Linked DNA regions of Homo sapiens: region 2 is linked to region 1. The links come from fine-mapping of genetic effects on gene expression. A gene starts in region 1. The other region holds a variant in brackets. All regions are shown on one strand. Distances are between the middles of the regions.

Region 1 (15,937 bases):
CCAGCTAATTTTTGTATTGTTTATAGAGATGGGGTTTCGCTATGTTGCCCAGGCTGGTCTTGAACTCCTGGGCTCAAGTGATTTGCCCACCTTAGCCTCCCAAAGTGTTGGGATTGTGGGTGTGAGCCACCACAACCAGCCAAAAACAATTTAATGACTTATCATGATGTAGGTAACTTGAGTTCTTTAGCAATCATATTTACTAGAATGTAAGACATTCTGCTTGAATAAGGTAGAGGGATGCAAAGAGGTTTAGTTTCTTTAAACTTTTTTGTTTTTTAGAGACAGTTTCGCTCTGTTGCCCAGGCTGGAGTGCAGTGGCACAATCATAGCTCACTGCAACGTTGAATTCCTGGGCTCAGGTGATCCTCCTGCTTCAGCCTCCCAAGTAGCTGGGACTACAGGTGCACACCATCATGTCCAGCTAATTTTGTAGAGATGAGGTTTTACTATGTTCCTCAGGCAGGTCTCGAATTTTTTTATTTTTATTTTTTTTTGAGACGGAGTCTCGCTCTGTTGCCCAAGCTGGAGTGCAGTGGCACGATCTTGGCTCATTGCAACCTCTGCCTCCTGGGTTTAAGCGATTCTCCTACCTCAGCCTCCCGAGTAGCCGGGACTACAGGCTTCCACCACCACGCCAGCTAATTTTTGTATTTTTACTAAAGACGGGGTTTCACCATTCTGGCCAGGCTGGTGTTGAACTCCTGACCTTGTGATCCACCCGCCTCAGCCTCCCAAAGTGCTGTGATTACAGGCATGAGCCCCTGTGCCTGGCCTGGTCTCGAACTCTTAGGCTCAAGTGATTTTCCTGCCTCGGTCTCTCAAAGCACTGGAGGATGCTATTTTTAGGAAAACCTATATACAAGGTTGGCCCTCAACAACTCAGAACTAGATTTTGAGAGTATTCCCACTTTTCCCCAACTCATAAGGGTGGTTTATTCCGCCTAGTCTGTGTAAACAATAAAGTTTATGCCAACACCTGTTTTCCTTCTGGGAGTCTGAAATTTTGGTACCTGCTAGGTATCTGGTAGAGTGCCTACATGATCAGCCTCCAATAAAAACCTCGGACCCTGAGTCTCTAATGGGTTTCTCTGGGCATAAACGTTGTACATACTAACCTGGGCAACATGGCAAACTCCAGTTTCTACCAAAAAAAAAAAAAATTATTCTGGTGTGGTGGCATGCACCTGTAGTTCCAGCTACTTAGAAGGCAGAGGTAGGAGGACCACTTGAGCCTGGGAAGTTGAGGCTGCTAGTGAGCTGTGACTGAGCCACTGCACTCCAACCTGGACCACGGAGCAGGACCTTCTCTCAAAAAAAACAAAACAAAACAAAACAAAAAAACCCCACAAAAAAAAACAAAAACACTGTACATATACATTACTACATTTTTCGTTGCTGGAGAAAGTAACATGCTTGCAGTATCCTCCCACAGGAAGGAAAACATAAGGAAACCTGTGCATGACTTTTTCCAGATTTCTACTAGTGTCTTTTTCCTTTGCTGATTCTATTCTGCGTCCTTTTACTAATAAACCTTAGACACACTATGCCTTATATGCTTAGCCCTTCTAATGAATCTCTAAATATGGGGGCAGTCTTGGGGACTCCCAACGCATGGTTGTCAAACTTTTTTTAAGTAATGGGCCCCTTGATAATTTGATGAAATCTACAGATTAAGCAGCACATACACATTATTCTGCATGGCACAGTACACTCTGGGTTGGGAGAGACCAGTGAGCAGAGAGTGCATTTTGGGGTGTTACTACAATGGTTCAGGGGTCTGGTGATGGCAGTGAGAAAAACAGTGACATCCAAAAGATTTAAAAAAAAATAAAAAGAAATTGTAGTACAAATGGATTTGGATGAAAAAAAGCAAGGATGATTAAGTTTTCAAGCCCAGAAGAGTGAAATAATGATGGTACTACTGAACAGAGAAGAAAAAATGCTGATGAAATGTTTTATGAAGATCATATGTTGAATTTCTGATACTAGTGAGAAGTCTGTGGCAGTTTTCAAAAAATGGTTGCAAAATCTGACACTCCTCCCATTGAGAATTGGGAATCTATGTTCGTTCCCCTTGAATCTGGACGGGCTTGTAACCAACAGAATGTGGCATGAGTGATACTATATGATTTATCTCATAGTTCTGAAAGCTGGGATTAAGGTGCCAGCAGATTTGGTGTCTGGTGAGGGCCCACTTTCTGGTTCACAGATGGTGCCTTCTCACTATGTTGTCACATGGTATCTCTGGGGTGTCTTTTATAAGGACACTAATCCCAGTCATGAGGGCTTTGATTCCCAAAGGTCCTATCTCCTAATACCATCATCTTGGGGGTTAGGATTTCAACATATGCATTTTTCAAGGACACAAACATTCAAACCATAGCAGCTGTGGTCTAATAAGACTTTATACAAACAGGCAGTAGGCCAGATTTGGTCTGAGGACCGTAGTTTGCCAATCCCTGGTATAGAGGAAAGATCAAGGTCTTTGTAAGGAGATCCTGGTTCAAAAATCCTTTCTCTGAGCCAGGCATGGTGGCTCACGCCTGTAATCCCAGCACTTTGGGAGGCTGAGGCGAGCGGATCACCTCAGGTCAGGAGTTTGAGACCAGCCTGGCCAACGTGGCAAAACCCCATCTTTCCTAAAAATACAAAAATTAGCTGGGTGTGGTGGCGTGTGCCTGTAACCCCAGTTACTCGGGAGGCTGAGGCATGAGAATTGCTTGAGCTCGGGAGGTGCAGGTTGCATTGAACTGAGATTGTGCCACTGCACTCTATGACTCTGATGGAAAAAAAAAAAAATCCTGGGCCGGGCGCGGTGGCTCATGCCTGTAATCCTAGCACTTTGGGAGGCAGGTGGCTCATGAGGTCAGGAGATCGAGACCATCCTGGCTAACACGGTGAAACCCCGTCTCTACTAAAAATACAAAAAAAATTAGCCGGGCGTGGTGGCGAGTGCCTGTAGTCCCAGCTACTCAGAAGGCTGAGGCAGGAGAATGGCGTGAACCCGGGAGGAAGAGCTTGCAGTGAGCCGAGTTTGTGCCACTGCACTGCAGCCTGGGCAACAGAGCAAGACTCCATCTCAAAAAAAAAAAAAATCCTTTCTCTGCTACTTATGAGGTTGGACTAGTCTCAACTTCTTGGGCCTTCAACTTTCCTTATCCAAAAATTAGAACAAACAATAATTACCCTGTGGGATAATTTTCAAGAATGAAAGATAATATAGTTAAAATGTGTGGCATGGAGTAGGCACTCAAATTGTAGTATAGTATTTTTCTAAGGTAAGGATTAAAAACAAATCATAAAATTGTCTATAAAAAGATGACTATTAATGCCATGAAGGTAAAGTTTCTTAGAGAGTATATCATGTACAGGATTTAACCTGAGGGTACAAAAAATTTTGTTAAAAGAAGAAATTAGGGTAAAAGCAGAGTTCCAAGTAGAAGTACCTACTAAGATAAAAGTAGAACGAAGAAAGTCAGGAGAGAATGGAATCTGAAGAAAGGAATCATCAGTAGTCGCAGTCTCAGGAGAAGGGCTTCCTTTTGTTTAAAAGCTAATCCCTCCATAGTGCTGCTGATAAAATCCAGTCCTGCTTCTTCCAGAATCCTGCCTGCTGTATCCATTAATTCTCTTTTTCTTGAGATGGAGTCTCGCTCTGTTGCCCAGGCTGGAGTGCAGTGGCACGATCTCAGCTCAATGCAACCTCTGCCTCCCAGGTTCAAGCGATTCTCCTGCCTCCGCCTCCCAAGTAGCTGGGATTATAGGCATGTGCCACTACGCCCAGCTAATTTTGTATTTTTAGTAGAGACAGGGTTTCACTATGTTGGTTACGCTGGTCTCGAACTCCTGACCTCAAGTGATCCGCCTGCCTCAGCCTCCCAGCCTCCCAAAGTGCTGGGACTACAGGTGTGAGCCACTGCGCCCGGCCAATTCTCTTTTCATATATATACACACAAACAGTTGATTCCCTTTATTTGCAGTAGTTAGATTTCATAAAGTTGCTTTGAGTACTGAACTGCTGCTCTTAGGGAAATGCAAGGTTATGTTTCTAACAGCATCTGGTGACGACACTTTCATCAACTGATCAATATATGACCTTGTTTTATGTGTGTTTCTGTTTAAAGACATCTAATTTAAACTTACTCTTAATTCATTTACACTAAATTCAAGACCAAGAGCACTATAACTCATGCCTGACTAAAGCTTATCCAATGTATATATCTTCTTTTTAAGACATATCACAGCCTTCTTTAGCTTGGGAATACCAGCCAGCACTTTAGTGCTATGCTTGGGATCATTTTAAACAGTGAAATCACACATGGCACTAAACTGGCTGCAAAAAAGATACTTGTTTATAACGTAAGAGATGAAACAAGAAGGCAGAGCTCTGCCTCGATCAACCTCAGCTGGAAACATCAAGGTACTCAAATTTGTCAGCTCTCTGTATGTGCACCAATGATTGCAAAAGCAAAGTGAGTATGAATTTAGGGGTTACAAATAAATTTTAGTGAGTAGGTGAATTTGGAAATATGGAATCTAAGAATAATGAGGACTGTTTGTGTGTGTTTGTGAGAAAGAACAGTTGAAAACAGAGATTTCATAAATCCTCTTTCTCTTCCAGAATCAAATTTGCCTTCTGGCAGCTCAAGCCTATAATCCTGGCACTCTGGTAGGCCAAGTGGGGAGGATCCCTTGAGCTCAAGGTTGATTTTTCTTTTTTGAGACAGAGTTTCGCTCTTGTTGCCCAGGCTGGAGTGCAATGGCGCGATCTTGGCTCACTGCAACCTCCGCCTCCCACGTTCAAGCGATTCTCCTGCCTCAGCCTCCCAGGTAGCTGGGATTACAGGCATGCACCACCACACCCGACTAATTTTGTATTTTTAGTAGAGACAGGGTTTCACCATGTTGGTCAGGCTGGTCTACAACTCCCGACTGCAAGCGATCCACCTGCCTCAGCCTCCCAAAGTAATGAGATTACAGGTGTGAGCCTCTGCACCTGGCCTGAGCTCAAGAGTCTTGAGACCAGTTTGAGCAACACAGTGAGAACTTCCCCCTCAAAATGTCAAAAGGAAAAGCCTGTGATCCCAGCTGCTGGGGAGGTTGAGGCAGCAGGATCGCTTGAGCCTGGGAGGTCAAGGTTGTAGTGAGCCATGATTGCGCCACTGCACTCCAGCCTGGGCAACACAGCAAGTCCCTGTCTCCAAAAAAAAAAAAAAGTCTTCCAAGCAGAAGGACCCCCAGCTCAGTGCATAAATGAGAATGAGACAACATTACGCAATGGTCAACTAAATGATCTTTCATCAGAAATTTGCAAGACAACAATACTGAAAAAATCTGTGGTTCTCAGTACGGGACAATTCTGACACACCCCTCCCCACCATCCAGAGACTTCTGGCAGTATCTGGAGATACCTTTGGTTGCTCTGATCTGGGGGATGCTATTGTGGAGGATGCTACTGACATCTAGCTGGTAGAGGATGTTGCTAAACGCTCTACAACGCCCAGAATAGCTCCCTATGACAAAAAATTATCCTGGCCAAAACTGTCAACAGTGTCAAGGTTGAGAATTCTGCTCTCACAAATTCCACTGATCAGCGCTGAGAGTGTACCCTTGACAACTGTAAACCAAATCCAAATGTGAGAATGACGAATAGAAAGTAGTTGAAAAGCCAAAATACTAAGACCATTGCTCAATATTAGTCATCTTTCCTCTACCCTTTTGGACTTCTGAACAGAACACCTGGTAGCACTGGGGTGGATAAATGAAACAGGAAGTAATTTGCAAATCTGTGGTTTCAAATGAAAATGTTGCTATCTATATACATATGCAGGCTGTTAATGATTTGAATGAACTGCTAAAATGGTTCTAATTTTGCTTTATAATTTATAGGTCTGAGAAAAATGAGATATCAAATATTATCAAAATTAAGAAACCATAGCAATCTTAATAAAACTTGTTAGAGATGTGAAATCAAATACTATATCAGCAAATTCATACCACTGGCCCAAATGAGGGCTGTATTTGCTAGTGGCTCCACCTTCCCCATTCCTGGTTCCAGGATGCATCCACTGGAGTGGGGACGGTGGTCTGGATCTCAGTTCTAGTTCTGTCCCTCACTGATTAGGTAACCTAGGACAAGTCATAATCTATGTATACTTCTATCTTTACATCTGTTAGACAAATTTTTCTTCCAGCTAACTTTCTATAATTCTAAGGAGGTCATATAAATGACTAAGGCTTTTTTTTTTTTTTTTTGTTAAAAACAGGGTCTCATTTGCTCAGGCTGGTGTCCTGAAATCCTGGCCTGAAGCAATTCTCTGGCCTCAGCCTCCCCCAAAGTGCTAGAATTACAGGCGTGAGCCACCAGGCCTGGCCAGGCTCATACACTTAATCCTGCTCTCTATTCTCACTCTAAGTTATGCTTTCCTTTGAAATATGTTTTATGCTCTCTTTTCCCCTTCAAGGTTCTCCAGAATATTTTATTTTGATTCCCCTCTCATTTAAAACAAAAAGTTTCAATAGGGAAGTATGCATCCTCTAAAAATGACACAAAAATAACTATGTCATATAAATGGCTTCATTCAACCAAGAACATTATTTGATTTTTTTTTTTTTTTTTTTTTTGAGACTGAGTCTTGCTCTGTCACCCAGGCTGGAGTGCAGTGGCACATTCTCGACTCACTGCAACCTCCACATTTTTTTTTTTTATAGTACAGACAGAGTTTCATCATGTTGGCCAGACTGATCTCAAACTCGTGACCTCAAGAGATCCCACTGCCCCGCCTCAGCCTCCCAAAGTGCTGAGATTACAGGCGTGAGCCACCGTGCCCAGCCATTATTTGTTATCTTTATTTCTTTTTGAGATGGAGTCTCACTCTGTTGCCCAGGCCAGAGTACAGTGGCACAATCTTGGCTCACCCCAACCTTCGCCTCCCGGGTTCAAGCGATTCTCCTGCCTCAGCCTCCCAAGTAGCTGAGATTACAGGCGCCCGCCATCACACCCAGCTAATTTTTGTATTTGCAGTAGAGACGGGGTTTCACCATGTTGGCCAGGCTGGTCTCGAACTCCTGACCTCAGGTGGTCCAGCCGTCTTGGCCTCCCAAAGTGCTAGGATTACAGGTGTGAGCCACCATGCCCAGCCTGTTATCTTTATTTCAAAATGATGTGATTCCCTATAATGCAGAAATGAGTCCTTTTTGACTATCATATTATCACAAAAGTTTAAAGAGTATGTACCAGAGGTATAATCAACTTTATAAAGTGATTTCAGCATTATGAATCAAATACAGTCAAAATTCAGGAAGGAAACAATCACAATTTTTTTTTTTTGAGATGGAGTCTCGCTCTGCCGCCAGGCTGGAGTGCAGTGGTGCAATCTCAGCTCACTGCAACCTCCACCTCCCAGGTTCAAGTGATTCTCCTGCCTCAGCCTCCCAAGTAACTGGGACTACAGGTGCGTGCCACCATACTCAGCTAATTTTTGTATTTTTAGTAGAGATAGGGTTTCACCATGTTGGCCAGGATGGTCTCGATCTCTTGACCTCGTGATCCGCCCGCCTCCACCTCCCAAAGTGCTAGGATTACAGGCGTGGGCCACCGTGCCCAGCCAACAATCACGATTTTTAAAAACATGTCAAGGTCATTTAAAATATTTAAGACATGGAGAAACTATTACTTTCTAGAACGAAGCATTTTTATTACACACACATACAAAGACACACACACTTTCAGGAGATAAGGCAAAAAACTAAAATATGAATGTAAGTGACTGGTAATTCCAACACTACAGGGATAAATACTATAAACACAATGAATGCAATTAAACTTCAGATAACCAAACCAAATACGTGTTTCTAGCCTTAGTAAAAGACAAACACAAAAAGATTGAAAACACAAGCAGAAAGAATAAAACTTTTCAATGCTCAAGAAACATCAGAAGTGTTTTAAATTAACTGATCTTAAGCCTGTCCTAGGCCTAGAGAAGTCTGATTAAGCTGGCCTGGTAAAGGGCATAGAAATATTCTTAAATTTTTTATTTTTTTAAATTTTTTCTTTAGGCAGGGTCTTGATCTGTCACCCAGGTGGGAGTGCAGTGGTACAACCATGGCTCATGAAGCCTCGACCTCCCCAGCTCAAGTGATCTTCCCACCTCATTTTTTTATTTTTTGTAGAGATGGGGTCTCCCTATGTTGCCCAGGCTGGTCTCCAACTCCTAGGCTCAAGTGATCCTCCCACCTCGGCTTCCCAAAGTGCTGGGGTTACAGGCATGAGCCATGGCACCTGGCCTTAAATTTTTTTATTATATTTTTAAGATACTCCAATGACCCTGATGATCAGTGAAAGCTGCTATTTTAAAACACAAAGCTCATATAAATTTGGCATATATTAAGGCTAGTATGCCATGTATAGCAAAGGCATTTAAATTGAGCCTGAAAAATACGTCTTTATCAGTGTTAGAAGCCACTGATAAAACTTCTTTCATGAGGCCAAGAGAGGTTCTCAACTGGAAGTCAGAATATATCAGTAAAGGCTGGTTTTTAATGTCATCCCAAGAGGCTGAGCACACACCAAACCAAATAGGAGATGACCATCACGAGGCTGGGCGAGGGGCTAGCATAGTGCAATGCTGGTTACCTTCTCAAAGTGCAGTCGAGACAGAAGCACTGGGCTGTTGGATTGAGGACTCTTGTTGTAAGAGGGGCAGTACTTATCAGGGTCCCTCCACTCCGGGAGCCGCTGCTGGCCCCGCCGATCCTGGTAGGCGCAAGCTCTCGTGAGAACATCTCTAGGTAAGTGACAGGATGTTCGCCCACACATTCTTCAACACCGCCCCTCGCAACCTTTAAATTACAAAACGTAAGGAAAAGGCTTACGTATCTCAAATATTAGGTCTTATTCCTTGAGTCCCCGCCTTCTCTTTCCGTTCCCACAGGGCCGTGCCCCTCCGTGACCACCGTCTAAAGTCTTCCCCAAAAAGTCCCACAAAGACAAGGATGTGCCCGTTTGCTTCGCTCCCTGAGCCCACTGCCCAGCTCCGTGCAGGGCACTGAGGCAAGTCCCGAGAGGAGCTCTGCAAATGCCTGCCTGAGCGCAGGAAGAGCCGCAGCGGAGGGGGCTTCACAGTCCAGCGAAGCAGGGCAAGCGCAGCTAGCTGGGGTCGCCTCCTCCGGGTGACTTGGTGCCCCCAACTCCCCGTCCTTCCCCCCAGTCCCCGCTGGGGTCAGCGACCCACGCCGGCCAGCAACCGGTCACCTCGAGGGCGGCCACTGGACGGCCCGGGGCCGGGGTGCAGAATCCCCGCCTCCCGCCCGCTAGTCCGCAGCGTCCCCGGGCCCGACCTGCGAACCTGTGGGCCGCGGATCCCGCTCCGGACTCTGCTCCCCGGAGCGGGGGCCGGTGCTCGGGGAGCAGGTGGCCCCCAGCCACCGGCCGCGATCCCTCGCCCCTCCCCGCGTCGCCTCCGCTCCGCTCCGGCCCTCAGACTCCGCCGCCCCGCGTCGCCTCACTTCGGCCCAGGCCGCCCTCTCCGCGTCGCCTCGCGTCCGCTCGGGCCTCTGCTCCCCTCTGTCAGCTCGCGTCGCTTCCTTTCCCCTCCCCTCCCCTCGCCATACCCCGACCGCCCGCGTCGCCTCCCCTCCCCTCACCTCGCCCCGGCAGCGCGCGTCACCTCCCTCGACTCTCCTCACCCCCGCTCCGCTCCGCTTTGGCCACCCGCGTCACCGCCCCTCACGTCAGCCCCGCCTCAGCCCGCGCTCCCGGCGCCAGGCCCCGCCCCCAAGGGCCCTTGGTTCCCGCGGTGCCCTCGGGCCCCGGAGGCGGCGTCTTCTCCCCTCCGGTTTGGGATGAATTTTCTCCCGTTTCCCCAGGAGACAGTGACTGCCTTGGGAGACATATCGATCCCAAGCTTCTCGGGACTCCACTTTCCTCCATATTGGCCGTTCCCTGGCGGGGTTAACCTTCCTCCCCGCCCCCAGCGTGTTTCAGGGCTGGCAGGGAAGGTTCCCGCCGCGCTGAGTCTAGGGCACAGGGTCATGGAAGGCGGGAAACCAGGAAACTCCACTCCTTACTTCACAGTCCTGCCAGCTGCCTCACAGTGCGAGGCAAAAATGGAGGAACACTGAAGAAATGAAAGTCAGAAGAACTTCCAGGAATCGCGCACTTCGCCCTCAAACATTGGTGGGCACTAGAATAAGCCTTTCCTGCCCCAGCCCCTCAGCTGAATCTCTAAGGGTGAGGCCCAGATTTTTAAAACAGCCCTTTCGGGTGTACTTTGGCCTCAAAGTTGGTAAAATAGCCTGGCTTGAGTTTAAAAGCCTGCTCCCCTTGGGACCTAAACCGGAGATTCTTCATCTGCAACCAACAGAGAATGCTCTAGAGGGCTGTTCGCCTATGCTGATTCGCTGAACTGAACAGGGAGCAGAAACCCCAGGGCACACTCCATGTAAGACCAGATGCTGGAACGATCAGACACAGGACCCAAGCCCTTTGGAGCCTCCATTTATCGACTATCAAAGGAGGATGCGTTGTGAAGAAGCACGAACGGGAGGGAGTGTGAACTCTGCCTGTTAGCTGATTCACTCAACCACCCTCTACCGCTCCCACCCCTGGGCTTGGTGCTGGGACAGCGATGACGGGGAGAGGGTCCTGCCTCACAGGACTACAACAGCCAAAGGGCTGTGGGTGCAAGGGGGACAGGGCAGGTGTTCTGCCTCTTTAGGGGAGGCCTTGAAGGGGAAGGTGGAGCCCTGAAGCATGAGTCTGCAGAAGTAGCAATCATTCAATAAATACATGCTGATTTATTACAGGGATAAGATGGTTTCTTGGGGGATAGATTCAAGAGGAGTTGAGAATGTTTTATTCATTTACAATGTCCCTTTCCTGGAAGGGTGGACAGCAAGATTTAGGACAAGCTAAAATCATCCCCTATTTAAAAAAAAAAAAAAAAAAAGTCACCAGCAAGTAGTCCCGGGTGGGAGGTGGGAGCAGAATAAAAAAAAATCTGCAATGATTCCTAATTGTTTTTCAATACAGAAGCTTGGGAAGGGGTTTCTGCCAGTTTCATGAGGAAGGCACAACTTCCAGGTAGTGTTGGGGAAGGGTATGAGGTCCTATGCAGGCTGGCCTCTTATCCCACAGATGCCAAGATGATGTCTACTGGCAGCTCCTCCAAACTTCTGGCTGTCACCTGCATTGTCACTGTGTCCAAAAGCAGCAGCCGGGAGCGCACCAGGATGTCATGACCACCCCGGAACACACCTAGAAGGGAAGAGAGAAGTACAGATATATACAGCAGAAGGGACTGTACAGGGCAGGCTAAGGATGGCATTTGCAGCAACCCATGAAGGCAGCTCTGGTGTAGTGAAACGGGCAGGAGAGCTGGGCTGAAATCCCTGAGTGAGGGATTTCACTGTGAAAGTCACTGTCTCTCAGCCAGGCGCGGTGGCTCACGCTTGTAATTCCAGCACTTTGGGAGGCTGAGGTGGGCAGATCATGAGGTCAGGAATTCGAGACCAGCCTGGCCAACACAGTGAAACCCCATCTCTACTAAAAATACGAAAATTAGCTGGGCATGGTGGTGGACGCCTGTAATCCCAGCTACTCGGGAGGCTGAAGCAGGAGAATCGCTTGAACCCGGGAGGCGGAGGTTGCAGCGAGCAGAGATTGTGCCACTGCATGCCAGCCTGGGTGACAGAGCTAGACTCCGTCTCAAAAAAAAAAAAAAAAAAGAAAGTCACTGTCTCTCAGGACTTCAGTATCCTCAACTACAAAGTGGCAGGGATGATAATACCATATTTCAGGCTTCTGCTAAGTTCAAATGAACTGATGGACATAAAAGGCTTATATCTCATGTCACAGAGGCTCTTGCACGTTGACTGAATCTGAGAGCACAAATGAAGGGGACAGCCCCACCACGAGAAAACCACAGGGCAGGTGTCTGCAAGACCCAGGGGACTAGGTTGTTTCAATGTGGCTACAAACTGTCAGCTGTAGGCAGGGTACTGAAGCAGAGCCTCCTTTCAACCCTGTTTATAAACACTCAGCCAAAAAAAATCATCCCATTTCCTTTTGTTAACTGTTTTAGGTATGATAATTGTATTGTCCTTTAAAAAAGGGAAGGGGTCATTCTCTCTTAGAGAAACATACAGATACAGGATTTACATATAAAATGCTATTTCTGGAGTTTGCTAGTAAATAATCTGGGAAGGAGAATGAGTGTGGGTACACTCAGCCAACCCTGTAGAAAATAAGACAAAGGATATGAAGACAATGATCAGAAAAGGAAATACAAATGCCTCAACATTTAAGAAGATACTTAACTTCATTGAAAATACAAAAACTACACTAAGATATCATTGTCCACACAGACTGGAAAAGATCATAAAGTGTGGTAACATATTATGTTGTCCACAGTGTAGGAAGAAAGGTATACAATTCTATGGAAGGCAACTTGGAGTTATTTATCAAGATGAGAAACACAAATCACTTTGAACTGGTGATGCCTTGGAAAATTTATCCTACAGATATTCTCAGTGTACACATGCAAAGTAAACTGTGTGTGTGTGTGTGTGTGTGTGTGTACACGATTATTTACTGTAACATCTGTAATAGCAAGAGATTGAAATCAAACTAAATGTTCATCAGTAGTGGCTGTTCCATAGAATATGTGGTGCATCCACACAATGGAATACTAAGCAACTATAAAAAAAATGAGGATTCAGTTTGGGATGAAAAAAGTTCTGGAGATGGATGGTGGTCATAGTTTTACAATAGTGTGAATGTACTTAATGCCGCTGAACCATACACTTGAAAATGGTCGAAATGGTGAATTTTATGTATATTTTACCACAATTAAAAGAAAAAGAATGAGGAAGCTCTACATATTGACGGGGAAGATCTCTAAGATGCAATGTAAAGTGAAAAGCAAATCGGAGGACAATATATATACCATTTGTACATAAACATTTGAGTTAAAAAAAGGAAATGCGTTCCTATTAGCTTTTATAGCCATAAAATAACCGCAAGGTTATACAAGTATTGTTTGTAATAGTAACACTGGTCGCTTCTCGGAAGGGAATCTGAATGGCTGGCAGCCAAGGTAGGGAGGAAACATTTCGCTGCAGATTATTTTATACTTTGTGAATTTTAAATGCTGTGAATTTTGACTCCCCATATTTACAGTGGAGTCCTTAGCCCAGGATCCAGTGGCATCCAGGCTGTAAGCTATCCAGGCCCTCCCCATCTAGAAATGCCACTTACCAGCCAGGAGCAACGTGTGGGTGTTCTTGTTATCCGGCACTTTGTCTGACCTCTCACAAGGGTGCATTCCCAAGAACTTCACAATATTACCCACAGCCTCTGTAATGAGAAATCCCAATATTGTTAAGCCATCTTATCTGCCCTTTGTGCCACCACCACTCCCCCATGTTCTGAAGGGCTTTTAATGAAGTGGCATTTGACATATGTGCTCCAGACATGGCCCTGGATCCTTGGAGAGAAAAGGGATGAGCACTTCAATAGTAGCCAAAGATCTTGAACAGTAATTAGGCCAGAGATGGCATTCCCAGGATTTTACCTTCAAGTGTCTTGATGGTAGACAAGGTGAACGTTTCCTCCTTCTCAAATTCATCCCCTACCTCATCCCAGGCTGCTTCGAAGTTCAGTTTCATGACCTTTTGAATGTGATCAGCTACAGTAACTTCCAGATCTTCCAGCTGGAGAGATGGAGGTAGAAATCAGGCACCCATCTACACACCTACGGGCCTCTGCTCTGAACTCATCCACACATCCCTTCCTGCAACTCTTTCCACAGGTGCTTGCTCGGCACTGAGGACTGTGCTAGACTCTGGGGACATAGAGCAACTTGACCAGGTACCTATCCTTGAGGTGCCCAAAGGCAAATGGTATCCCTTCAACAGAAAACGCCCTAATCCCAAGTACCAATCTACTAATTCAGCCTAGAGCCGCCTGCTGTGAGATCACATCTCTTCTAAGCCTGCCTAGTGTCAGTGCTTCCAGGACCTGGCATGCAGGGAATTACATAGCATTCTCAGAGGTCTGCTTCCTATGCCTGTCCCTCCTAGGGGATGATGAGCTCTTCAGGACCAGCAGCTGTTTCTAGTTCAGCAGAAACTAGCAGAAACCTCCTACCCCAGCTGTGTCCTCTGGATTTGACAGATCCTGAATCTCTATCTCCATTTCAGCTGTGTCTTCCCTGAACTTGACACATAATACTCCCACTGAGTCTACATGAAGGTTCCCCATTCATTCTCCCATCAGATTTTCACTGAGGCCCTACTCCTGTGGATGTTTACAGTGTATATAAATACAACTTAGACCCAGCTCTCTCTCTCTTTTTTTTTTTTCTTCATCTCTGGATGGGCTCAAACAGACCCAGCTCTCTCAAGGAGCTCACTTGGTCTTAGAGCAGCTCCTGCCTCGGGGTCATTTCCAGCTCAAGGAAGGTCCATCCATCCTCAACTGTGACTCTAGGATGACACAATGGCGAATGTCAGTTGTATTCCACTGTGACTGTCCCTCTAGTCAGGAGGAGTTCTAACAGTCCCCATCCACAGGCTGAGCATAATGGTCTGCACTCAGATGGCCCTGAGCCACTGCCCCAAAGTCAGACCTCAGAAGGATCCTGTACTTAGTTCCACCGAGCTAAGATAGGAGAATTTAGAAGGGCTATTCCAGTGCATGAAAGGACTGCCCAGCACAGCAAACAGGTCAAATTTATCCAGAAAGCATTTGACAAGAGGAATCAAAATGTCTTAAAATCATGCTTACCCTTTGACCCAACTATTCTCCTTCTAGGAATCTATCCTAAAGAAATAATCTAAAATGCAGATAAAAATTTGTATCTAAAGGGATATTTAATGCAGCAATATAAATAGTGAAAATATGGAAACCCAAATGCCCAACATTAAAGGAGTGAAAAGTCAATCAAGTTTTGACATAGTATATAACAGTATTTTAAATCCACTAAAAAAATTGTGTTTATGAAGTATTTGTAATGATACTGGAAAATACACTATGGTTTTAAAATAGCAAGGTCTACACTGTAAGAATGATTTCAATTATACCACTTCCCCCCAAAAATAACTCTAAGGATTATGAGTAATGTTTTCCTGTTGTTCATACTTTGTTTTGAATTTTGTTTTTGTATTTCCCAAGTTTTCTTTTTACACATGAACATGTATTTCCATAAGTTTAAAAAGTTATTTTAGGCCGGGCGCGGTGGCTCACGCCTGTAATCCCAACACTTTGGGAGGCCAAGGTAGGTGGATCACCTGAGGTGAGGAGATCGCGACCAGCCTAGCCAACATGGTGAAACCCTATCTCTACCAAAAATACAAAAAATTTGGCAGGCATGGTGGTGGGCGCCTGTAATCCCAGCTACTTGGGAGGCTGAGGCAAGAGAATCGCTTGGACCAGGGAGACAGAGGTTGCAGTGAGCCGAGATCGCGCCACTGCACTCCAGCCTGGGTAACAAAAGAGAAACTTCATCTCAAAAAATAAAAATAAAAAAATAAAATTTTAAAGAGCTAAAAAGCCAAAAACAGCTCCAGTCTCACTGTCAGTTCCTGAAGGGAGTTGCTTTGCAGCCTCAGCACAAAACTGAGCTTCCTGACACCAGGATCTTACCACATACTCATCCTCATAGCCTTCGTCATCAGTCTCCCCAGTGGTGGGATCACAGTCCTTGACAGTGAACTTCATCATGCAGCTGAATGTGCAGGCCACTGTGGGGAAGAGAGGCTGGGTAGTTAGGATGTCCCCAGCCTGCAGGGGATGGGCTCCTCCTGCAGGGGACAAGCAGGCAGGGGTCACAGCCTGCTTTCTAGGCCCCTGCTATGTTATTAGTAGCAGCAACAAGCCATCCAATCCCACAAAGCTGGACAGAGGGTGCCACCTTGTAGGACAGGAAAGTCA
Region 2 (14,878 bases), 45 kb before region 1:
GATTACAGGCGTGAGCCACCACACCCGGCCTGCTTTTTTTTTTTTTTTTTTAAAGAGACAAGAATCTTGCTATGTTGCCCAGGCCGGTCTCAAACTCCTGGGCTCAAGCGATCCTCCCAGCTCGATCTCCCAAACATTTAAATGTTTTTAATACATTAAACAAGAATTGCATGTCTTGAGTATTGTTATAAAATTCAAATAATTATTTGATCTATAGAATAAAATATACTACCATTAGGTGACAGGTTTAGATTAACCCTTTGATTCCGAATCCCATGCACTTTCTTCCCACCTCTATCTACTTCCTGGGAGAGACTCTAAGCTTCTACTATGAGTTTGGCATCAATTGGGATTTTAATCCTGTTCCTGAGCCCCTCTGTGTGGAACACTTGCCAAGACAGAAACTGCAGGAACCCCAGAGTCCTTGCTCCTCAAACACTTTAGGATTTCAAGGAGGAGGAGTCTCCCCATTGATGCTTCATCCTTATACGTCTCCACATTCCCCAAGCCTTTTTATTACAGGAAGCCTCAGAATTAACCCTCCCCATCGTAAACACAAGGACTGCCAGGCTGGGCCTCTTTCTACAGTAAGCCCCTCACTTAGTTCTGGGAGGACTCCGAGAAACGAGGAGACTCTAGACAAACTGGGGCAATTTCCCTCCAGCTTTCTCAACTGAGGTCTACTATTCCACTTCAGATAATGTGGCCGAAAATAGGTAATTCCATTTCCATGTGCATAATCTCTCCCGTTACTTACACCAATCATGGCTTCTGGGTGGTGGAGCAACACACACTATAGAATGAAGGAGAAACAAGGGGCTTCTTCAGGGACCCAGCCTCAGGGTGGAGACGTGGCTTCCTTCCTAGGAGGAGGACACAGTAGGGTGTGCATTGCAAGGTGGAGAAAGATAAACTCAGCCACGGGGGTTGCAGGGCGATCCCCACTCGGCCTGGTAGGACCCACTAATTGAAATAGGTTCTTGTTGCTTCTGAACTCCTTTTCAAGGAAACAAGTCAAGGTGTTTGTTGAAGTAAGCATAAAATATCACATGAGGCAAAATCATGGCTTCAGAATCCCTTTGATGATGAATACTGTGTGACACAGTTTGTTTTAATAGAATCTGCTTGCTCTGTGGGTGTCAAAATTTTTCTCCACAAAACAAAAATAAGTGAGACTGCTCAATTTAGAAAAAATATCACTTTCCCCAGAAGGAACATGTTTCTCATACTAAGATTCTCCAAGAACCTTCACTGTCTAGAACAGTTTCCCAGTGGTGCCTGAAGAGACATCTGCTGTGAGGGATTAAATGTTCAAATGAGTGACACCAAGACCAAGAGCTCTAGGAGTTCCGAGACAGCCACCCATGGACTCCATGGGAGAAGGCAGGGCTCAGGGCCCTGGGCTGGACCTGAAGAGGGAGGAGTACAGAGGGGCTGAGGGAAGTCACAAGAGTGTCCAGGCCATGTGTGGATGGGAGGGGGAGGATGGATTCCAGGGTTTTAAAGTTCAGAAGAGTCAGCACGCCATCATCACCTGAATCCAGCCACAGCCATTTGCACAGTGATTTCTGTGCTCCATCTAAGCAAGAGTGAATCCTAGCCATGGCTGGTCACTGCCAGGGCAAGAACTGAGGCCTCCTCATTCCTTGTCATCCCAGAGCTCAGCCCTGGGCAGCCCAACTTAGTCCTCCCAGAGGTTCTGATAAGCACATCGCTGGGCTGAGATCTAGCTCAGGCATGGAAGGGTTTCATCCTCACCCTGTCTAGCCTGTTGGGCCCCACACTAATCCAGGTGCTTTCTCGGGCTCTGATCCAGGGTCAGAGGAGATGAGCGTGGGCTCCTGAAGACAGTAAGTTGTCCCCATCCCCTCTGTCCCTGCTGCTCTGATCCTGTCTGGACAGGGTTTGCTGGTCCGTGCTTTTCACCTCTGTGTACAAGTGCAGCCCCTGCTGGGAACCCTCGACCTGGATGCTGTCCTCCCCGTTGCAGCATCCCCAGGCCTCACAGAGGGCCTGGCCCCTGTACCTGTGCCCAGGAAGCTCCCATAAATGGATGATTGGATCAGAGCAGACACCTACTCTGCAAGGAAACACCAGGGTAGAAGAATCATGTCTTCTTCATCTTTATATCTCTGAAGCTGCGCTCTTCTGTGTGGCAGTCACTACCGGGAGGTGCTCCTTATTACTAACTTAATTAATCCATTCAATTAATTAGAGTGCAAGAAAACACTGTGTTCAACAGCCACATTTCATGTGTCCCTAGGAGTTATTTGCCACTGACCATAGCACTCAACAGCACAGAGAGCATTTCCCTCTGCACAGAACACTTGGGTAGCTGTTCTGAGCCCAGCCCAGGTCTGTTGAATGAGCTCATCTACCTCACAATGTTTCCATCACGGTTAGAATTCCAGGTAGGTAAGTCTGTAGCGAGAGCTGTAACATTGCAGCAAAAATGGGGAAGTGAGAGGAGGAAAGGAGACCTTCTCACTTGATGGTTTACAATTGTCAGCAACGCCTCATTGATGGTCTCGAACTCCATAGAGCCCAGGGAGGGTAAGAGAGCCCAGAGGACAGAGAAGCATGATCTTGTGTCATCTAATGTGACCTCAATGGAGTAGGAGGGATGGGTGAGTCACTCTCTGGAATACCCTTCTTGCTGATGTTTGTGGCCCCTGGACACCATGTGGTGCACGCAGCAGTGAGGATGAAGACGGGAGGTAGGGGACTCCACTCCAGGTAGGACCCAATGGGAGAGGCTGCTGGGGAGCACGAGGGTTACACTTGAGGCTATGAAGCCTTGGAAGGGAGCTGTGAAATCAGAAATAAATGTGTAAAATCTGATTTGTTCTTTTTGTATTTTAACGGCATACAGAGATGGTGCCTCTGGGCTCTGAGTGTGCTGTGTTTGCCATCATAGTATTTAAAGATGGTCTTTCTCAAAGCACCAGATCTTTCCTGCCTTTGCCACAGCAAACTTCAGAGCCTTTGATTATGTTTCACCTCTTGGGAATGATACACAAAAGATTTTGGTTTGACTTTTGGGTGTTGACCTCCAGGGGAAGGAATCTGGTGAGACACAACTCTCTCATAGGCAGATACCTGATCTTGGAGGCAAAGTCCATCTAGTGAGTGCGGGGTGCTGGGTGAGAAGTCGGCCCTCTCCCTCTGTACTTTCTTTTCTTTTTTTTTTTTTGAGATGGAGTCTCTCTCTGTTGCCCAGACTGGAGTGCAATGGCACGATCTCGGCTCACTACAACCTCCGCCTCCTGGGTTCAAGCGATACTCCTGCCTCAGCCTCCTGAGTAGCTAGGATTACAGGCGCATGCCACCATGCCTGGCTAATTTTTTGTATTTTTAGTACAGACGGGGTTTCATTGTGTTAGCCAGGATGGTCTGGATCTGACCTCGTGATCCGCCTGCCTCGGCCTCCAAAAATGCTGGGATAATAGGCGTGAGCCACCGCACCCGGCCCCTCCCTCTGTACTTTCAGGACTTGGAGCAGAACCTTCATGTTCTGTCCTCGTAACTGGGGGACCAGTTAAAGGGCAGCCAGGTTTCTGCTGGGGCATGGGCCAGCTGTGCCCGCCGGTCTCAGGTGTAACAGGCTAAGTCGCCCACAGTGGTGTAGACAGACCCATTGTGAGATGGATGCCTTAAACTTCTTGACCTGTGTTATCCTCCCAGCAGCCACGTGAGCTTGCACACCACTGTGCTCTCCATTGAGTAGTCGTAGAGGCTGAGACCTGAAGAGGCCAAGCCGCTTGTCTGAGCTCGGGGAGGGCAGAGCTGGAGTCTGAACTCAGATCCATGTGGATCTGCACTCTCATGTGGGAGCCACGGGCCCCAGGGCTATTTACGTGTAGTTAGAAAATGAGCAGTTTGGCCGGGTGCAGTGGCTCATGCCTGTAATCCCAACTCTTTGGGAGGCTGAGGCAGGCGGATCACGAGGTCAGATCAAGACCATCCTGGCTGACACAGTGAAACCCCGTCTCTACTAAAAATACAAAAAAAAAAAAATTGCCGGGCATGGTGGCAGGCACCTGTAGTCCCAGCTACTCAGGAGGCTGAGGCAGGAGAATGGCGTGAACCCTGAAGGCGGAGCTTGCAGTGAGCCGAGATCATAGCACTGCACTCCAGCCTGGGCGACAGAACAAGACTCCGTTGTCTCGAAAAAAGAAAAAGAAAAGAAAAGAAAAGAAATTGAGCAGTTCAGTTCCTGAGATGCATAAGCCTCCAGTCCAGGGTTCACTGGCTGCACGGCGAGTGCTGCCACCTGTGGGACAGGGCAGGAGCAGAGCTACACCGGTCCTTGGCCGGCGCTGGTGCAGGCCCCAGGTCTGACTGTGCTGCTTGCCTCTAGTTTTGCTATGTGATTTTTAAAGAGCACGATGCCTTTTTTTAAAGTTTCATTTTCATGTTTGAGTCTCCTTTTGCAGAAACTTCAGGCCTGTAGAAAATCTGCCAGCGCAGTCCAAAAAGAGGTTTCCCTCACTCACCTGAAAGCCGGTTGCCAGCCTCATGTCCCATCACCCTGATGATTTTCAAGTGCTTTACGACCATTAGTGACGTTGTCCTGCATGGCCACCGTGCAGTTATGGTGCTAGGAAACGAACACTGATGCCGACCATCTTCAGACCTCATTCGAGTTTGCTCATTTGTCTCGGTTTTTTTTTTTTTTTAAATTGAGACAGAGTCTTACTCTGTCGCCCAGGCTGGAGTGCAGTGGCACAATCTTGGCTCACTGCAACCTCCACCTCCCGGGTTCAAGCGATTCTTCTGCCCTCAGCCTCCCGAGTAGCTGGGACTACAGGCGCGCGCCACCATACACAGCTAATTTTTTTTTGTATTTTTAGTAAAGACGGGGTTTCACTGTGTTAGTCAGGATGGTCTCAATCTCCTGACCTCGTGATCTGCCCGCCTGGGCCTCCCAAAGTGCTGGGATTAAAGGCATGAGCCACCACATCTGGCCCAGCCCTTTTTTTTTTTTTTAGACAGTCTCCCTCTGTCACTAGGCTGGAGTGCAGTGGTGCAGTCTCGGCTCACTTCAACCTCTGCCTCCAGGGTTCAAGTAAATTTCCTGCCTCAGCCTCCCGAGTAGCTAGGACTACAGGTGTGCACCACCACGCCCAACTACTTTTTGTATTTTTAGTACACATGGGGTTTCACCATGTTGGCCAGGATGGTCTCGATCTCTTGACCTCATGATCTGCCCACCTCAGCCTCCCAAAGTGCTGGGATTACAGGCATGAGCCACCGTGCCCAGCCATTTGTCCCAGTTTTATCCCTTTCAGCAAAAAGAAAAACCCCAGCCCTGAGTCACCTGCCGCATGTGTCCTGTTTCTCTTAGTCTCTGTCAGCCCGGGACAGCCTCCTGGGCTTTGACTTTGGACACCGTGACACTTGTGAAGAGGACAGTCTGGTTATCTGTAGAGCAGCTCTCATTTTGGGTTTATCTGCTGTTCCCTCATGGCCAGGCTCTGAGCACTGCGTCTTTGGCAGGAATATCACCGAAGTGAGACTCCATTCTTCCACTTGCTTCTGATCTGGGGAAGTCACCTTCTCACCCCTTTGTAATTATAAGTCCTTTGTTGGGGAGTTTACCATCTTCTGGTTTTTTTTTTTTTTTTTTTTTTTTTGAGATGGAGTCTCACTCTGTCACCAGGCTGGAGTGCAGTGGCGCAATCTCGGCTCACTGCAACCTCTGCCTCCCGGGTTCAAGCAATTCTCCTGCCTCAGTCTCCTGAGTACTGAGATTACAGGCACCCACCACGTTCAGCTAATTTTTGTATTTTTAGTAGAGATGGGGTTTCACCATGTTGGCCAGGATGGTCTCGATCTCCTAACCTCGTGATCCGCCCACAATTACGCCATTAAAGTCCAGCTCTGGGCCGTAGGGGATGATGGGGACGTGGTGGTTCCTCCATCACAACCTTCTCCAGAACTCAGCTCACGGTGACTCCAGGCAGACGTCCTCACGTCCTGATGCCTTTGAGAGCTGAGTCGCCCTCCTGGAGGCAGAGCTTTCTGGACCAGCTCTGCAGTTTCTGGTGTTTTGTAAAACTATGACCACGAGCCGGAGAGTCAGAGACCTGGATTCCAGTCCTGGCCTTGTCACTTCCTGCCTGTGGCCTTAGCCAGGGAACGTTACCCACCTGAGCCTCAGCCTCCTGCCCTGGGAAACAGAGCTGGAGGGGATCCCATGCCCAGCTCGGCAGATTGATCCGCTCAGGGCCCCTCTCTGGGCCTGGCGCATGTTGGATGTTGAGGGGATGCTGGTTCCCTGTCCCCTTCTGACAGCCCCGTCCCCTGCCATGTCAGGCCCCCCAAGCTTCCAGGCAGCTCTGCACCTGAGCCGAATGATAACAGAAATCCCAGACACCAAGGCAGGTTGGAGCTGGATTGTCCTGGATTTGTGGTCAATTTGACATGTGACACCTAGAGTAACCAGGCGAGGAAATAAATTACGGCGTGGCCCGGCACCGGCAGATGCTGGGGAGATGGAAGCATGGCGGCAGATTGCTCTTGTGCAGGGGAACAGTGGGCTCGTTTGTAAATGCAGGCTGAAGTGGGAGGCTGCGTGGGAAGGATCCCTGAAGTCAGCCTGCCCAGCAGCCCACACTCCATGCTACACCACGTCCCCGACATCTCCCCAAGCTGGGATCTGGGGAGAGTGAGACGTGGTGCCGTCCGGTCCCCAGGGCTAAGGGACCAGTCATGGAGAATCGTTCCCCAGAGCTGGGTGGTAGGCCAGGGAGGTGGGACAGGAGCAGGCAGCCTCAGGGAGGCGAGGGCGCTGCTGGTCCGGCCTCGGCTGGGCTGTGTTCTTGGGCCTGTTGCCTCATCTCTCAGGCCTCATTGTTCCTGTGTGGACTCAGCGGCTGGTCTTGCATGTCAGTGTTTCCATCACGTATGCAGGTGGATAAAATGGAGTTTCCCAGGCTTCTTGCAGACACAGCCTGGGCCAGGGGCCAAGCATCTGCATTTTTCACAAGGACATGGGCAGATCTGATGTAGGAAGCTGCAGGGACATGTCTCTAGGTAGCCCCAGCCCTGACTAACGGGACACCCCTTATTTCTTCAGTGTTGGCCCCAGTGGGAGGGGCTGATAGGGAATGCTGTGGTAGATTCTGACAGACCTTGTGTCTGGGTTTGATCAACAAACTTTAACAACGCGTTCCTTTTCCAGAATCATCACTTTCTTGGAGTCTATGTCCATCCCTCCTCAGAGCACAGACCCCCTGAAGGTTCAGACTAGTTCTACTGTGAACACTATAGATCTATTATCACTTCAGAGCATAGACCTGCTGTGTGTTAAGGACAGAGCTGCTAGGATTCTGAGTGTAGACCCACTGAGGAACAGGAACAAGTTTGAAGGAGCCTTGTTCAGATAGAATGGGATGAGTCCAGGTTTGGTCCTCGGGAGGTCAGCTCAGGACTCAGGGCTGAAGGCGGCATCAGGCATCTGTTCCTCAGCAACAGGTCCCTCTCTGTGGAGGAGGCCAGCGCCATAATTGTGGGGCCCCTAGGTGGGTGGTGTGGGGCCTCCAGGTAAGTGGTGTGGGGCCTGCAGGTGGGTGGTGTGGGGCCTACAGGTGGGTGGAGTGGGGCTTCCCATGTGGATGCTGAGGGCCCCTGTGCTGAGGGTGGTGGTCCCATCCTCCTCCACCCTGCTGCCCCTGAGGCCTGAGTGCTCAGGCTCCCCCTGCCTGTTTTAGGGTTCACCATTCACCCTGGTGATAGGTGGGTGCTGGAGACCGGCCGCCTGTATGAAATCACCATTGAAGTTTTTGACAAGTTCAGCAACAAGGTCTACGTATCTGACGTCAGTGCCTGTTCAGGTCCTGGCTGGGGGGATGAGGTGGGTCGTTGTCTGACGCAGCTGCTGGAAAGCAGCCCCCAAAGCAACAGGAGCCCCCATGCAGGATGACTGAGGAAGGGTCCTGTTTCTAGTGGCGCTCCTGGGTCTGTGGGAGACACTGCCAAGGCATCCTGGGGCATTTCCAGAGCCTGTGAGCCTGCACACCCGCCCCACCGCAGAGTCCCTGTAGGGCTGGAGCCCTGTAGTCCCTGTAGGGCTGCCACAGCGGCAGGGCTTCAGGAGAGGGGGATACGGAGGAGGTCTCTGCCCGCCACTCTCCCACCCCCTTTTCCCCAAGCTGGGGACCTCAGAGGATTCATTCTTCTCCCGCCCTGCCGAGAGTCAGGGAGCACGTCCTGGCCTTCTCCCTGCTGAGCCCCAGAAATACCTGGAACCCTGCGTGACAGAGGCCGAGCTCAGCACGCTTTCTGGTTCTGGAAAGGGGTGTCAGACAGATGGGGAAATGTGCAGGAGCCTTGGCCACCTCTCTGTCCCCTGTGAGAAATTCCAGGCTCATCAGTGAGTGCCTCCAGGCCCTTCCAGGTGGTGTTGGAGGTTTGTTTGTTTTTTGAGATGGAGTCTTGCTCTGTTGCCCAGGCTGGAGTGCAGTGGAGTGATCTCGGCTCACTGCTACCTCCACCTTCTGGGTTCACGCTATTCTCCTACCTCAGCCTCCCCGAGCAGCTGGGACTACAGGCGCACACCACCACGCCCGGCTAATTTTTTTTATTTTTAGTAGAGACGGGGTTTCACCGTGTTAGCCAGGATGGTCTCGATCTCCTGACCTCGTGATCCACCTGCCTCGGCCTCCCAAAGTGCTGGGATTACACGCATGAGCCACCGCGCCTGGCCCTGTGTTGGAGGTTTTAGAAAGAGGTGAGGTTCCTCTCGGTGTCCTTGAAGAAGCCATTGCTTTGCTTGTGTTATCAAACAAGGGCTGGGATGGTCACCATTTGCAGTTAGCTGTAGGGGACGTGATGTCCTTTTTTTGGTATTTACTGGTTCCTTGTTGAGACCTTGGTAGGCTCCAAGCTGCCCCAGGTGCCACACGGGGAGATGAAACAGGAGTGCAGGTCATCGGGCCATGCAGGGAGGGTGCCCTGGGTGGGGACAAAGGCCATAGTGGTTAGAGCTCTGTTCCAGGGCCTGACCTGCCCGTCTGCTGCTAGTGGAGGCTGCTGAACACCAGGGGGCCCCTTGGCCTGGCCCGGCTGCTGGTTTCAGTTCTGTAGCTTCTTGCCCAAACTCTGACTTTCTGGAGTCACCCCAGAAGCACCTCTCACCTGTCCTGCCTCGCCTTCCAGAACTTCTGAATTGAAACTGTGCTTCCTGCTGAGTTCTTTGAGGTGCTCTCGGCCTCCCAGAATGGGTCATACCATCACGTCAGGGCACTAAAGAGGGGACAGATGGCCATTGACGCGGCCCTCACCTCTGTGGTGGACCAGGCAAGTTGGTGTCTCCCCTGCGTCGTGCCTTGGCCTATGAAGCCCTCCTCTGTAGGCAGAAATGTCAGCCCAGGAGGGCCATGGGTCGAGTTGGGCCACCAGTGTCCCTTTGCCTGTTTGGGCTACTTACATCCTGGGTTCTTTTTTCCTTTGTCTTTAAGAAGCCCATCAGCCTTAGGGAGCAGAGCTTTGCTGATCGGAAAATCGGCCTGGGTGTTCCCATTTTCCTACCCTGCGCAGAAGGCCTCCCGGCCTGGAAGGGGCCGCAGGCTGTAACAGGAAGAAATGCCCATGCACCGACAGTGACTCCTGCCAGAGTCGGCCTCCTCATCTCTGGGAGCTGGGTGGGCTGCTTTAGCTCTCAAGCCTCAGTTTCCCCATCTGTAAAGTAGGGGGTACACCACGTCCATCCTGCCGGGGTGCCCTGAGGATTCAGTCAGGCAGCACTTCCAGGAGTGGCTGTAGCAAAGCCACGGAAAGCCATCCCTGTGGAGAACGAGAGGGTGGCAGGGTGTCTGGAAACTTCCTCTCCACTCTCCCACAAAATCCACCTTTGTGGCCTGATCCCCAGGGAGGGGTGGGGGTCCAGTGACTGGGAAAGACTGCTGATGACATGGTTGTCATAGTGATGTGTGGCACCCTCACCCCTTGTAGGATAGAGGGGTCCACACACTATGGGTGCCTGTGTGGAACCAGCAGGAGGTGGAAATTCACATCCCCATCACCCTGTATCCCAACATCTTGACGTTTCCATGGCAACCAAAGACAAGTACTTATCAGTACACAATAAAGCTACATGAGACCCCCACTTCTGGGTGCATTCCTCTGGTGTTTCCATAGGATTGTGGCTTTTCGTCCATTCTATTACTTTTTTTTTTTTTTTTGAGACAGAGTCTTGTTCTGTCACCCAGGCTGGAGTGCAATGGCACAATCTCGGCTCACTGCAACCTCTGCCTACTGGGTTCAGGTGATTCTCCTGCCTCAGCCTCTCAAGTAGCTGGGACTACAGGTGTACACCACCATGTCCAGCTAATTTTTGCATTTTTAGTAGAGACAGGGTTTCACATGTTGGCCAGGCTGGTCTCGAACTCTTGACCTCAAGTGATCCTCCCACCATGGCCTCTCGAAGTGCTGGCATGAGCCACCACGCCCGGCCTCATTCTGTTACTTTTAACGTTACTCTCTAGTGGCCTACTTTAAATCACAGTCTTTATGATTTCTGTTATTTCCTGAGGTTTCCATCATAGCAATGCATTTTTTGTAATCAGGAAAAAGCCCAACAAAAACCAATAGTGAAAAAATAGAGAAAAGAAAATACAATAAATTCTGGAATATTCTGGAATACAGATTTGAATTTCATTAACATTTCTTTTTCTAAAAGTTATGTTTTGAAAGCTATATATATCTGTATATAGATATAGATATATAGATATATGCTCTTAGAGAAAACATTCAAATTCAAGGCATAAGTATCTCCAACCCCATCACATGGGACGTGTCACTGCTTTGATCTTCCTGCCTGCACGTGGCATTAGCCAGCAGGACTCGCGTTAGACAGGGCTCGAGTCCTCGTGGTCAGTGCAGGGCACATCAGTCCTGCTGTCCCATGGAGTGGTGACAGGTGTCCTTTCTATGCACTGGCACTGGCTCTCTGCTCAGATGTGTCACCGTCCTGGCCCCTTGGGTTCTAGGGTTGTTTCCTCTGGTCTGGGAGCAGAGGTGCGGTCGCTGACCTCC[C/T]AGCAGATGATGAGGAGTGGGCAGGGGTGTGTGCTGGGAGCTTGTGTCTGGTCAGGGAGGCAGCGCCCTGCAGCTGGCTCGGTGGCCAGGGGTTCTGCCCACTGCAGCCTGAGCTTTGCGAGGTGCCACCAGATTCTGGGGCCTCTGTCATGGGCATGTGTGTTTGTGTGTGTCAGTCTCGAGGTCCCCAGAACATGAGGGCAGAAACAAGACAGGACAGAGAGGGCGAGGGCAGGGGGAGCCTCCAGCCAGACCCTGGCTGACACCACGTTTTTCCCTGCAGTTGGCATCGACCTTGTGTGTGAGTGAGTAAGTGGCCACAGGTGTTTTTGAGGATGTGAGAATGGGTGTGTTTGAATGTGTCTATAGGTATGTGTGTGAATGTGTAAGAAAGTGGGTATGTGTAGAGCTGTGTGGGTATGTGAGGATGTGTGTGAAGGTATAGGTGCACGTGAGTATGAATGGCTAGGTGAGTGTGTGTTGGCTTGTGTGTAAGCACCTATGTTTGAGGGTGTGTCCGTGGTCAAGTGTGAGCTTGGGTGAGTGCATGTGAACTGGTGAGTGGGAATGGTGAGTGGGTGAATGTGAGGGTAAATGTGTCGAGTGTGTGTGAATGGGTGAGCCTGTGTGAATGTGAGCGAGTATGTATAAGTGCGAGTGGCTGTGTAAATCAGTGAGCATATGTGTGTGAGGGAAGTGAGTGGGAGCATGTGAATGCGTGTGTGAACCTGTGGGTGTGAAGGGTATGTGATGGTGAGCTTATGAGTGTGAAGGGCACATGCCTGTGTGAACATGTGTGTGTGAGCACGTGAATGGGTGGATGATGTGTCTGAGTAGGTGTATGTGTACGAATCTGTGAGTGTGAATGGGTTAGTGTGTGGGTGTGAGGGGTAAACTGTGTGACCATTTTGTGAGCATGTGAATGAGAGGATGACAGGTGTGAGTAGGTGAATGTGTGTGAACCTGTGGGTGTGAATGGTATGTGTGAGGATAAATGTGTGGGTATGAGTGTGTGTGCATATATGTGTGAATGGATGCGTAGGTGTGTGTATGAATGTGAACTATGTGAATGGTGTGTGAGCATGTGAGTAGGAGGGTAAATTGTGTGTGAGTAGGTGATGTGTACGTGTGTCAACTGTAAGTGTAAATGGTGTGAGTGTGTGTGAGCATGACTGAGTAGGTATCAGTGTGAGTGTGAAGTGTGGGTGTGAATGGTGAGCATGTGTGAGGGTAAATATGTGTGAGTAGGTGTCTGTGGGTGTGAACTGTGGCTGTGAATGGTGAGCGTGTGTGAAGGTAAATCTGAGTGTGAGTGAGTAGGTGTCTGTGTGTGTGAACTGTAGGTGTGAATGGTGAGTGTGTGTCTGGAAGCCCAGAATCAGACTGTCGAGCTGGATCATTCAGACTCCATACATCCAGCCCCTTTATACAAACTGGGAGACTGAGGCTGGGCAGTGGTGGTGGGGAAGGGATCACACCCAGCGTTTGAAGGACAGCCCGGGTCAGAGCCCAGCCAGGAGCTCCTGACCCCCATCCTCCCATCCGCTGCTGCTGCAGGTGTGTCTGTGTCGGGAGCGCACTGTGTCCACCCCGCCTTGGTACAGCTAGGAGCATGACCTCCCCCACCCTGCACTTAGCTCACAGCCCACAACTCAACGGACATACTAGATGGCAGGGGCTGTGAGCCAGGCAGGGAGGGTGCTCTGGTAGGAGCCCTAGGGAGGGGTCTAGGGAGGCCGGCCAGGGAAGGAGCCAGCCATGGGGCCACCCCAGCAAGTCCCAGGTCCTGAGAACCCTCTGGGTATGTGTGGGCAGCAAAAAAGGCTATGAGGCTGAGTGCTCAGCTGGGGAGCTGCGGTCAGAGCCTTGGTAGGGGCCAGTGGCAAAGGCATTGGGAGACTTTACCCTACGTCTGGTGAGAAGCCATTAGAGACCTTCTGGCAGAGCCAGGACCCACCACTCAGACTTCTGTGTTGGGGCTGTGCGGACAGAACAGGAGGCTGGGTGGAAAGGGTAGAGAGGGTGGGGGCTCGGCAGCTGTGGGACCAGTTCTGGGGTAGATGGGGAGGAAGCCATGGGTTGGAAGAGAGTAGGGAAATCAGGGAGCAGTCCCTGTCTCTGGGCAGAATCACTGGCAAAAGTTTGGGAGGAGCAGGGTCTGTGTTGGCCACACCCAGGCTCCAGGTGAGGGTGGCAAGAGGAGCGGGATGCTGGGGTCTGCACGGGAGAGAGGCTGACCTCGGGCTAGGGAAATGAACTGCATCATCAGGGTACTGGTGGTGTTTGCAGCCCCAGGACTGAACAATCCCCTAGATAAGGAGGAGAGAGAGAGCCCAGCAGCCACAGAGCCCCTTCCAGATTCCGACCCCAGAAACCCCACTGCTCACAAGCCAGAGCCTCCTCCAGACTGGCCAGGCCCAGGGAAGGGCGCGACTCAGGTGCTGGGCACATGGTCTTGCCCTGGTCTCTGCTAGGCCCTGGCCACTTCCAGAAGCTCCTTTTCTCATATTTGGCCATTTTTTTTGGTTGAGGACCTGGGACCTTCCCCACCTACAGTTTCCTTGGTGGGGTAATGCAGAAGGGATGACCAGCAGTGTGGGGGTAAGAGGCACCCTGAAGGCTGCAAGACCCCAGCCTGAGTCCTGGTCTCCTGGCTAACCCCCTCCTCAAGCCTCAGTTGCCTCTACCATATCATGAGGGCAAGTGGAAGATCCCACTTAGTCTATGCCAGCTCCCAAAGTCTAGAATTAGTCTTCTGAGCCCTGCGCCACAGGCAGCCTCCCTCTTGACAAAAGCCCCGCTCCCCTCACAGGCTGAGGAGCCGGCCCCCAGCCCGTGTGCCCACCAAGGCTGGTGTGGGGTCTGAGCTGCATCCTCCGTGTCCTCCCCCCGGGACTGGACAGCACTGCCCTGCCCACAGGGCTCCAGCCCTGTGTTGACTGCTTCTCCCCTGCAGTCCCAGCCAGGTCCCCCGGGGCACCGTGGCTGCGAGCCTGGCCGCTCTCCTCAGTGCCCGGACTGCGGCTCTACTTTGTGAGTGGCTGTACTGGCTGCGGTGCCCAGCCCTCCTCTCTCGAATCTCCTCTCCTCAGATGTCATGAAGGAGGCCACACCTGGGTCCCGCCTTCCTCCGTGACCCTGTCCCTTTGTCTCCACTAGAGCATCCCCTTCCTCCAGCACAGATGACCCAGGAGTGTCCCTGGCCCAGCCTGTGGCTGCAGCCAGCTCCAGAGTGGCATGTCCAGCATGCCACTCCTCCCCCCTGCGGTGGCTGCACAAAAGGCCAAGCGATGGCCCTGTTGCCCATGGCTGGGACTCCTTCAGGGGTATCGCTTCTGCTCACCCTTTAACTTTTCAAAAGACCCAAGCTCAAGCCCCTTGTATTAGTCCATTCTCACAAAGCTATAAAGAACTACCTGAGACTGGGTAATTTACAAAGATAAGAGGTTTAATTGGCTCACGGTTCCGCAGCTGTACAGGAAGCACAGGGCATCAACTTCTTGGGAGGCCTCAGGGAGCTTTTACTCATGGCAAAAGGTGAAGTGGAGCAGGTGTCCTACATGGCAGGGGCGGGACCAAGAGAGGGAGTCAGGGGAGGTGCAACACGCTTTCAAACAACCAGATCTCATGATAGCTCACCATCATGAGGACATCACCGAGGGAATGGTGCTAAACCATTAGAATCCACTCCCATGATCTGATCACCTCCCACCAGGACCCACCTCCAACACTGAGGATTAAAACTGAACCTAAAATTTGGGTGGGAACACAGATCCAAATCATATCACCTGCTCTGGGTCATGGCCGGGCTGCCTCCCCTCCACCTGGTTCCAGGGCC

Evidence for each region. PIP is the estimated chance that this variant, and not a neighbour inherited with it, causes the effect.
Region 2: its variant is fine-mapped to the expression of HMCES in monocytes (TOPMed, PIP 0.98).

Annotation. Positions count from the first base shown.
Region 1 is chr3:129,272,617-129,288,553 of GRCh38, reverse strand. HMCES (5-hydroxymethylcytosine binding, ES cell specific) reads right to left here and starts at 9,684. Exons shown (of 7, transcript NM_020187.3): 1 at 9,649-9,684; 2 at 8,639-8,844. The coding sequence starts at 8,821. It overlaps COPG1 (coat protein complex I subunit gamma 1), which reads right to left. Exons shown (of 24, transcript NM_016128.4): 21 at 15,650-15,747; 22 at 13,578-13,716; 23 at 13,262-13,360; 24 at 10,781-11,260. The coding sequence ends at 11,130. RefSeq lists an enhancer at 8,530-8,659 and silencers at 9,080-9,469, 9,480-9,829.
Region 2 is chr3:129,318,261-129,333,138 of GRCh38, reverse strand. H1-10-AS1 (H1-10 antisense RNA 1) reads right to left here. Exons shown (of 5, transcript NR_026991.1): 2 at 14,829-14,878; 3 at 14,502-14,596; 4 at 9,535-9,789; 5 at 8,570-8,958. It also overlaps the pseudogene NUP210P3. Among named protein-coding and RNA genes, the nearest start is that of H1-10, 9.4 kb to the right of the region's middle. RefSeq lists an enhancer at 4,376-4,435. The variant C/T (reference allele first, on the strand shown) is at 11,041.